Regions from separate parts of the Homo sapiens genome. Here all the other regions are linked to region 3. Evidence: fine-mapped expression QTL. A gene starts in region 3. Each other region holds a variant in brackets. All regions are shown on one strand. Distances are from middle to middle. Region 1 has its middle 47 kb from the start of MANEA-DT. Region 2 has its middle 25 kb from the start of MANEA-DT. Region 3 holds the start of MANEA (mannosidase endo-alpha).

Region 1 (2,767 bases), 48 kb after region 3:
GAGGTTCTATTAAGGTCACAGAAGCCACTGGTGCACTAAGTCATGGAATTCCCAAACTGGCAACTTCAAGAACCTTGTTCTAAACATTCAGTCATATGAGTTATATTATATGTGTTTGAAGGGAAAAAAGATGGTAGAGAATACAGATATTTTCCTCCTATCAGAAGATTGTTATTTTTTTGAACTCTAAGCTTTATTCCAACAATCTTATGGGCATTAGGAGGAGGGAAATGGTATTTGACAGCTGTCTTATTTGTGCTAGTCAGTATATTAGATGTTTTACAATAATATGTTGTTAGATTTAGCCAAAGATTGTGTAAGATGGCTATCATTGTTTTCATTTTACAAGACAGAAGAAGGTTACCATGTACTGAAGGTCACACAGTTATTATGCGGCAGATTTGGGTCAGGGTAATTTCTGAAGCCCATACTCTCCCTAACTAAAAATATTTCCTTCTGCATGTTGCTGTATATAAGAATTGAGGAGGGTGTAAAATTATGTGATATACCTACTTTTAAGAAAATGACATACTAAAACCTAAAACTACAATCATTAATCCTAAAATTTTTTAAAAAATAAATTTAACTAAAATGCTTAATGTGACCTACCTTGCAGTTGACCTAAACTGGCTTAATGTTCCTCTCAGCTTGACTAAACTTTAGACAGGTTTCATACTGACTATAGGCCTCCATCTTCTCTTTTGTTAGAGCATTGACAAGAAAATTTGCAAGTATGTATTTTTTCTCTGCCAATTTTAAATGTATGTAAATCGCTCTCAGCCTCTTGCAATTTTACAACCTAGGAGTGCTTTTCCAGAGGGCCTGGTAACCAGCCCTTTGAAATGTAATCATTAAGGAAGAGAGTGCTTCTATCTCTCAGTATCTGTGGGAGGGAAGAAGTGGACACCAATTAGCAAACACAGATAGCCTAAGCCCAGAGAAAACCATTTGTAAACTCAAGAATAACTCAATGTACTCAACACATTTCATTGATCAACTACCCCATTAATGTCTTCCAGAACTTTTTTGCTAGGTCACTCCAGTGCTAAAAAACCCTCTAGCCCTTTATCTTGGTATGGAGCTGGATCTGGGTATCCAGAATTGCTCTGTGCTCTCTCACTTATTGCTGTCAATAATATCGGAATAAAATCAACTTTGGTCTGCTGATCTTGTCCCCTGCAACTTTTTTGCTTTAACACAGTAATGCCATTTCCAGGAAGTTATT[C/T]GAGAAATGTGCCTGTTGATGAAAACTCATATTAAATAACACTGAATTATATTTTGCATTTCTTTGTGCCTAGTAAACATGCTTGTAAACAAGTGTATTTATTTCTATTTTCTTGAAAATGGTATTTGATAGGTTTAAATAAAATACTGTTTAAGTATTATTGTACATATTTTTTCTACTACCATTTTAAGAACCTTACATTTAGTCACAGCAGCATTTTCTTTTTGGCTATTCTTATGCGTTGCTGATTTGAATGAATTGATACCAGATTGAAATGCATATGTAAATCCATCCATTGTGTATCTATGACCATTCCTTTATACTGATGTAAATTATTTGAAGTTACTAGAGTTCTAATGTGCTGAATTCAATATAAACAAAACTAAAATATTCTAACATAGACCCCAATTTTTGTATTTTAGTGAAGAGACTTTTTAGGTTCAAATAAAAATGTAATAAAGAAAGAAAAGATTTTTTGAAGACTTGTTATCACATTTTGAAAAACTCTATTTGTGAGAATACACTTGATTTTAATCAATGTTGAATTCTTTTTTCAGAGTAAGATACATTATTATAGTATTTTAATAGTATAACAATTAATTTACTTTATAAAATATAAATTAAGTTCACATTAAACTCCAAATAAAATATTACTTTCAGTAAAATTCTTTAATATCAATATTCTCAAGCCTCTCTTTTAATAAAACTACCCAGATTCTGTTAATTATCCTAAAATCACAATGTGACAAGGTATGTGTATAATTTCAAAATTGGGATTTTTTTTATTTTTATGCCTTTTTGCATATAAAAATACTTCTCTCTCCTTCATTCCTCTCTCAATCATTTCCAAGGTTACTACTATTTTGGGCTCTCACAAATGTCAAAGCTAAGTCCAGAGACTGATGATGTGCCTTTGAGATGGAGGCCATGCTCACATTAGTTGTGGTGTGAAGGCTGTTATTAGAGTATACTCTCTTCCATGAAATGTCCTACCCACCTGTTGGGACGTCTTTGAAAAGAAATTCAATAATCTCATTTCCTCCTGAATACTATCCAATAATTTCCCATCTATCTCAAAATTAAAGCCAAATACTAACCCAAGGCCCCACTTCATCTAACTCTTGACTACTTCCTCAACCTTGCATTAGTTTGCTAGGGCTACCATAAACAATTACAGCAGAGAGAGTAGCTTAAACAACATAAGCTTACCACAGGTCTACAGACTAGAAGTATGAGATCAAAATGTCAGCAGGGTTATTTTTTTCTGAAGCCTCCCCTTGGCTTGTAAATTACTGTCTTTCTCCTGTGCCTTTTTGTGTACAAATCTCCTCCTATAAGGACACCAGTCATATTGTATTATGGCCCACTCTAATGACCTTATTTTACCTTAGTTACTTTTAAACATCCTGTTGCCAAAAACAGTCACATTCTGAGAGACTAGGAGTTAGGATTTCAACATATGAATTTTGAGGGGTCACAATTAGCCAATAATACACCATGTTCCCTAAGCTTTCTCTTCTTAGATCACTATTCTCTGGCTGG
Region 2 (2,767 bases), 26 kb after region 3:
AGGAAATCAGTAAGGAACCTCTTAGAGGGTATGCCATTTGAGGAGGATAAAGGATAAATTTGTTAACATTTGCCCACAAGAATTGAAAGCAATCCAGACAGAAGAGAATGTAAATAAAAATCTTGAAAGCAGTCCAGTGTGGATAGAGCATAAGAGAGAAAGTAGCTGGGAAAGAAGCTGAAGATGAAGATGAGTGACAGCATAAGCTTAAAGAATATGTGAGGCCAGGCATGGTGGCTCATGCCTGTGATTCCAGCAGTTTGGGAGGCCCAGGCAGGAGGATCTCTTGAGCTTAGGAGTTCAAGATCAGCCTGGGCAACATAACAAGTTCCCGTCTTTACAAAAATTTTTGTAAAAATTAGCCAGGCATGGTGGTGGCTGTGGTCCCAGCTAATTGGGAGGCTGAGGCAGGAGGATTGCTTAAGCCAAAGAGATCGAGGCAGCCGTTAGCTGTGTTTGCATCACTGCACTCCAGCCTGGGCAACAGAGTGAGAACCTGTCTAAACAAATTTTTTTTTTAAATAATAAGTGAAAGAAGTGGGAAGTCCCTTAAGGGCTTTAAACAGAGGAGTGACTGGATTTTTTGACTGCCCTATGGAGAAGGAATGAGGCAGGAGCAGGAATAAACAGGGAGAACATTGGAAGCATTTTTATCCTAGGTAAAGGATAACAGTGACTTGATGTAGGGTCTTCTAGTGAAGTTCATGAAAATTGGTCAACTATAAAATACATTTTGTGGCCAGGCATGGTGGCTCACGCCTGTAATCCTAGCACTTTGAGAGGGCTCACCTGAGGTCAGGAGTTCAAGACCAGCCTGGGCAACATGGTGAAACCCCATCTCTACAAAAATACAAAAATTAGCTGGGTGTGGCGGCGGGCGCCTGTAATCCCAGCCACGCAGGAGACTGAGGCAGAAGAATTGCTTGAACCCGGGAGGCAGAGGTTGCCGTGAGCTGAGATTGTGCCACTGCCCTCCAGCCTGGGCGACAGAGTGAGACTGTCTCAAAAAAAAAAAAAAAAATTTTGCATGAGAAACCACCTAAATCAGTGATCAGTTGGTTGTATGGTGGCTGGAACGAGAAGGACCTAGTATAACCCAGAGATAAGAATACTGACCTATCTGGAGTTTTCTTATTTTTAATATGACCATGTATGGCTGAACAACGGGTTTGAATAACCCTAGAGGAACCTTGACCTAGAGATGAGCCTAACCATAGTGGTGAAATAGAACTTGCTGCCAGGAGTTAGGAAAAGTGCATTTCAGGACATAGAGTACAGTGTTGAAAAGGAATCACAATAGATGTTAGTTTTGGAAGCTGTGGTGTCAGAGACAAAGCGTGCTGTTAGGGATGCATTTAGCAATCCTGGATGGGAGGCAGAGAGGCAGGCAAGAAGACAGACAGACAGGTGGCATCTGAAAGTCCCCCTCAGACCAGGCAACAGGCTTTGAATGTCAAGGCAAGACTACAATCCCTCTCTTTGTCGCAAGCGTGGGTAAACCCAGAGGACCTAAAGTATTGGGAAACTAACCAAGAGAGGGAATTGAATCCACAGAGGGAAAGGCAGGGGCCCAGTTCTTCAGAGCTTCATGTGAGAATGAAGGCAAGACAAATTTCAAAACAACAGCAAGACCAGTGGCACAGATGACAAAGCT[C/T]AGTGTCAGATGGTTGGACTAGAGAAAACTATCTAGGTAAATCTTGCCCTAGAACCTACAGGGCTCTGGATGGGGGTTAGGAAACCCCAGCTGTTAGAGAACAGGGAGCAGAGGATAGACAGACACCTACAAGTGAAAAATACTGAAAGAAAAAACTTCAATTAATGGGTGATACTGACACTTATTATGTCTCTTGAGGAATATTAAAAGAGTAAACCTACAGATCATTAGTCTGCATTGTTCTGCCACAGACAGTTTCTTGCCTCAATGCCCAATGTCTGTACTAACCACAACACTAACCTTTTAATCCTCTAATATTGTGGAAGGAGCTGTTTTCTAAAACGTTTAAGACCACCATATCATCCAGTTTGTCCCATCTGTGGCTCTTTCTGTTCATTTAAGAAATAAAATGATCATTGTTTTATTCCTGCCAATGACAGACATGGAAGGCAACTGGTGCTCTCTGCTGAGGCATGTGGCAGCAGCAGTAGAAGGTACTGTGGTTGAAAGAGCTGCAAAGCCCTGTATTCTGATTGCTCCCATTTCCCTCTCAGCGTATCTGAAGAGCCAGAGAATATTTCCAATCATCGAACTATGAATTATCCTTTTCAAAAGACTACCAGACAGCCAAAAAAGATAAATGTCTTCTGGACATAAGAAATTTTGATAGAGACTCTGCAGGTCCATAAACTCTCTGGCTCAAAATCCATGTGAGGGGAGGTTGTAATAGAGTCAGATGGTCTATAATTTCACCCACAATGTTTATGGAAAAATATCTTGTTTGGATATATATTTTCCTCATCAGGATAAGCAGATATAAAAGATATGTGAGTATATTGGCAAATGCTACATAAAAGAAATATAGCAGCATTTAAGCTGCAAGGACATACCTTGGAAAAGGTTTATTATCAGAAATTTAAAGCACATTTTTTAAAGCATCTGCTTGTGTCGTTAGTACAATTTTTAAAATATGGTCTCTGGTACAAAAAGAAAATACAAGATGAAATATCAACAGATTGACAAAAGAAGGATGTTAATTGAAAGGAGGAAGGTAAAAATTGAAGTGACAGATATAATAACAAGAACTCTCTCCATGAGGAAAAAATTACTGAA
Region 3 (2,767 bases):
CAGCAAATGGCCAAGAAACCAATCTAAGGTTAATCACCTAGCAAGGAGCAGATCGAGTCTGGCTCAAGAACTCAAGTTCTTGTCCATGCTATTCTGCCTTCCTTTAAGGTATTAGACAAATCAAATTTAGAGGATACACCAGTTATTTTTGTGACACAAGATGAAAGCTGCTGCTATATGGTTATGTTTTCAATTAAGGATTATGTACCTAATAAACAATGATTAACTGTTACCTACTCCATAAACTGTGCCCAAACTTCATCTAAAGACAGCTTATTCTATTTTATGATCATACATTCACTATTCGTCACACGAATAACAGCAACAGCTCTGGAAATGGTGTTTTCATTGTTGTGATTTTTTGTTTTGGGGGGTGTTTTTCTGCATTGAGCCTGAAAATCCACAAATTCACAGCACTCATGTTTTTTTCAGGTGTGATACACCTGAAATAGATGTATTGTCATGAAAGTGATTTGCAAACAACGTGATACAGTATCACCAATATCTAGGTTTTACTTTATATTTTTGTTTCAAACTACTGCCTCAATACTTTAACGTGAACAGCCTATTCCAGTCCCATTTTTCTTATTTTCAAGTTCTTAATCAACATTATCCCCCCCTTGTTGTTGTTTTATAGCACTTCCACATTTTCTCCTAACACTTATCCGTAGGGTCTTACAACAACAAAACCAAACAGTTATACCTGCCTGTACTTCAAGTTGCTTCTTTGGAAAAAGGAACAACAAAAACACTAATCCAGCACTGTTGCATCCCGACTTAGCAAAGGCTAAGAGTCTAAGATGACAGTGCCAAACACGTTAACAGGTGAACTGAAAAACCATCTCTAGCGGCCTCGCCATCGGGCGGTCTCCTCCCGATGCCCAGAGGCGACAGCTACCTTTCCGTTGCACCCAGAGCCCAGCAGGCCTCGATCCTTCTACTCTCCCGGTCGGCTCAAGGCCCAGAGGCAGTCTGGGGGCACAAGGAGAAGGTGCTGAAAAAGGCTTCCATCCGACCCGAAATTTCCACCTTGTCGGGGAGACAAGGAAAATCCGAGGCGACAGGAGGTACCGTTTCAAAGAGGAGGCGGCGACGAGGCCAGTGAGGTGGGGATAAAGCAGTGTAAAAGGCAGTAAAACTAACGCAGACTAAAACAGGCCTAAGAGTGACAGCCTAGGTTAATCGAGGGGGCTACAGGCTCGCCGCTGGGCGCCACCAGCGCCTGCCAGAGGGGCGCCGGGTCAAAGGGCGCCCGGAGGAAAGCGGCCACCAGATTGGCTGGCGGGCGAGCGCGCAGGCGCCCGCGGTGGACCTCGTGCCTGCCGCCGCTGCTGGCGCCGCCGCCTCCAAGAGGTCTGACTCCTGCAGCTACTCACCAGGGTCGGGTAATTCACTTCTTGCAAGGACTCGGCCAGAGGAGAGGTTAAGACCGCGAACATAGAGCTGACTGCCGCCGCGCCCCGAGCCCAGACAGCCCCTCCTCCCCGAAGGCGCGCGCACAGCGTTCCGGGCGCTTTCAGGGGCGGGACGGGTGGGGGCGGGGTCACGGAGCGGGCGGGGCTCGGGGTCTTCCGGAGCCTCCGGTCGCGGGTCTAAGAGGACTAGGGCGGGAGCGGCGCGGAAGAAAGAGAGGACTGCGTTTTGGGGCGTTCTGTCAGAGGGGAAGGACGTGTGGATTGGAGTCAGACTGCACTCCCGCCCTATTTCTGCAAGTAGAACTCACTGCCTTTAGAAACGGTCTTCTGAGGCTCTGTTGGGAGGCTCTAACTGTATTACAGAGGACACATTTTTGTTTGTTTTTATGTGAAACATTCAGAAGTTGCTTGCATCAAGTGCTTTACAAGTACACTGGTTTTCAAACTTTTAAAGTTGAGGAACTGTTTTGATTTTTGTAAAAATAGAACTTTACTTGGAAGCCCAAGGTAGGCAGATGGAGATGGCGTTTTTAATTTGCGAATGTATTCTATAAAATCACATCTGTACTGAAGTACTAGAAATAATTGAGGATAAGTCAGATGTGAAGAGCAAGAACTTTTGAAATAGGATTACAACTGAAGGTTTCCATCTTACATTAGCTTCAGAAAACAAGAAAATGCTATCTTTTGTTTGGTTACATAGTAACAGGAAGTCCTTATTCAAGCTAGAACTTGCTGATGTGAACAGTTTCATAAGGGCTCTCCTTAAAAAGATTTTGTACACCAATTTTAATTGGGAAATATACATATGAGTATATCTCATGTGCATATCTTAAAGAAGAATGAAAAATGCCCAGGTACCCACTACAGAGCTTAAGAAAAAAAAAATGCCAGTATTTTTGGAGTCTTCTAGAAAGAAGACTCTCTAAAAACATCTCCTTCCTTCCGTTCACCATTATGCTGAATTTTATATTACTCATTCCGTTGTATTTCTGAAAATAGTTACATATGTACGATTCCCTAAAAATACTATTTTCCTAGTTTTATATTTCATATGTGAATCATTCTTCATTTTTCCCCTTTTTTCACTAATTTAGGTTTTGAGAGGTTTTGAGATTCGTCTGTATACAAGTCCATTTCCCATAAACTAGACTGGCACATCGTTACCCTTATGCTATTGTTAGACTTTTTAAGTTTTTGCTGATAAGAGCATCTGATTGCTCTTTTAATTTGCATTTTCCCTTTTGCTAAAGCCTGTTCTTAATTTTATCTCATTTTTTATTAAATTGCTTGCTTTTGAAAATTATTTTGTAGATAATATTTATTTTTTCTAGTTTAATTCTCTCTTGTAA

What was found. PIP is the estimated chance that this variant, and not a neighbour inherited with it, causes the effect.
Region 1: its variant is the best candidate, but not a certain one, in a credible set for the expression of MANEA in nasal epithelium (TOPMed, PIP 0.69).
Region 2: its variant is the best candidate, but not a certain one, in a credible set for the expression of MANEA in cerebellar hemisphere (GTEx, PIP 0.59).

What each region holds. Positions count from the first base shown.
Region 1 is chr6:95,528,696-95,531,462 of GRCh38, reverse strand. No RefSeq gene overlaps it. Among named protein-coding and RNA genes, the nearest start is that of MANEA-DT, 47 kb to the left of the region's middle. The variant C/T (reference allele first, on the strand shown) is at 1,226.
Region 2 is chr6:95,550,630-95,553,396 of GRCh38, reverse strand. No RefSeq gene overlaps it. Among named protein-coding and RNA genes, the nearest start is that of MANEA-DT, 25 kb to the left of the region's middle. The variant C/T (reference allele first, on the strand shown) is at 1,655.
Region 3 is chr6:95,576,248-95,579,014 of GRCh38, reverse strand. It overlaps MANEA (mannosidase endo-alpha), which reads right to left and starts at 1,480. Exons shown (of 5, transcript NM_024641.4): 1 at 1,377-1,480. It overlaps MANEA-DT (MANEA divergent transcript), which reads left to right and starts at 1,564. Exons shown (of 3, transcript NR_104136.1): 1 at 1,564-1,922. RefSeq lists enhancers at 881-980, 444-1,384 and silencers at 1,181-1,240, 1,521-1,610, 1,661-1,740.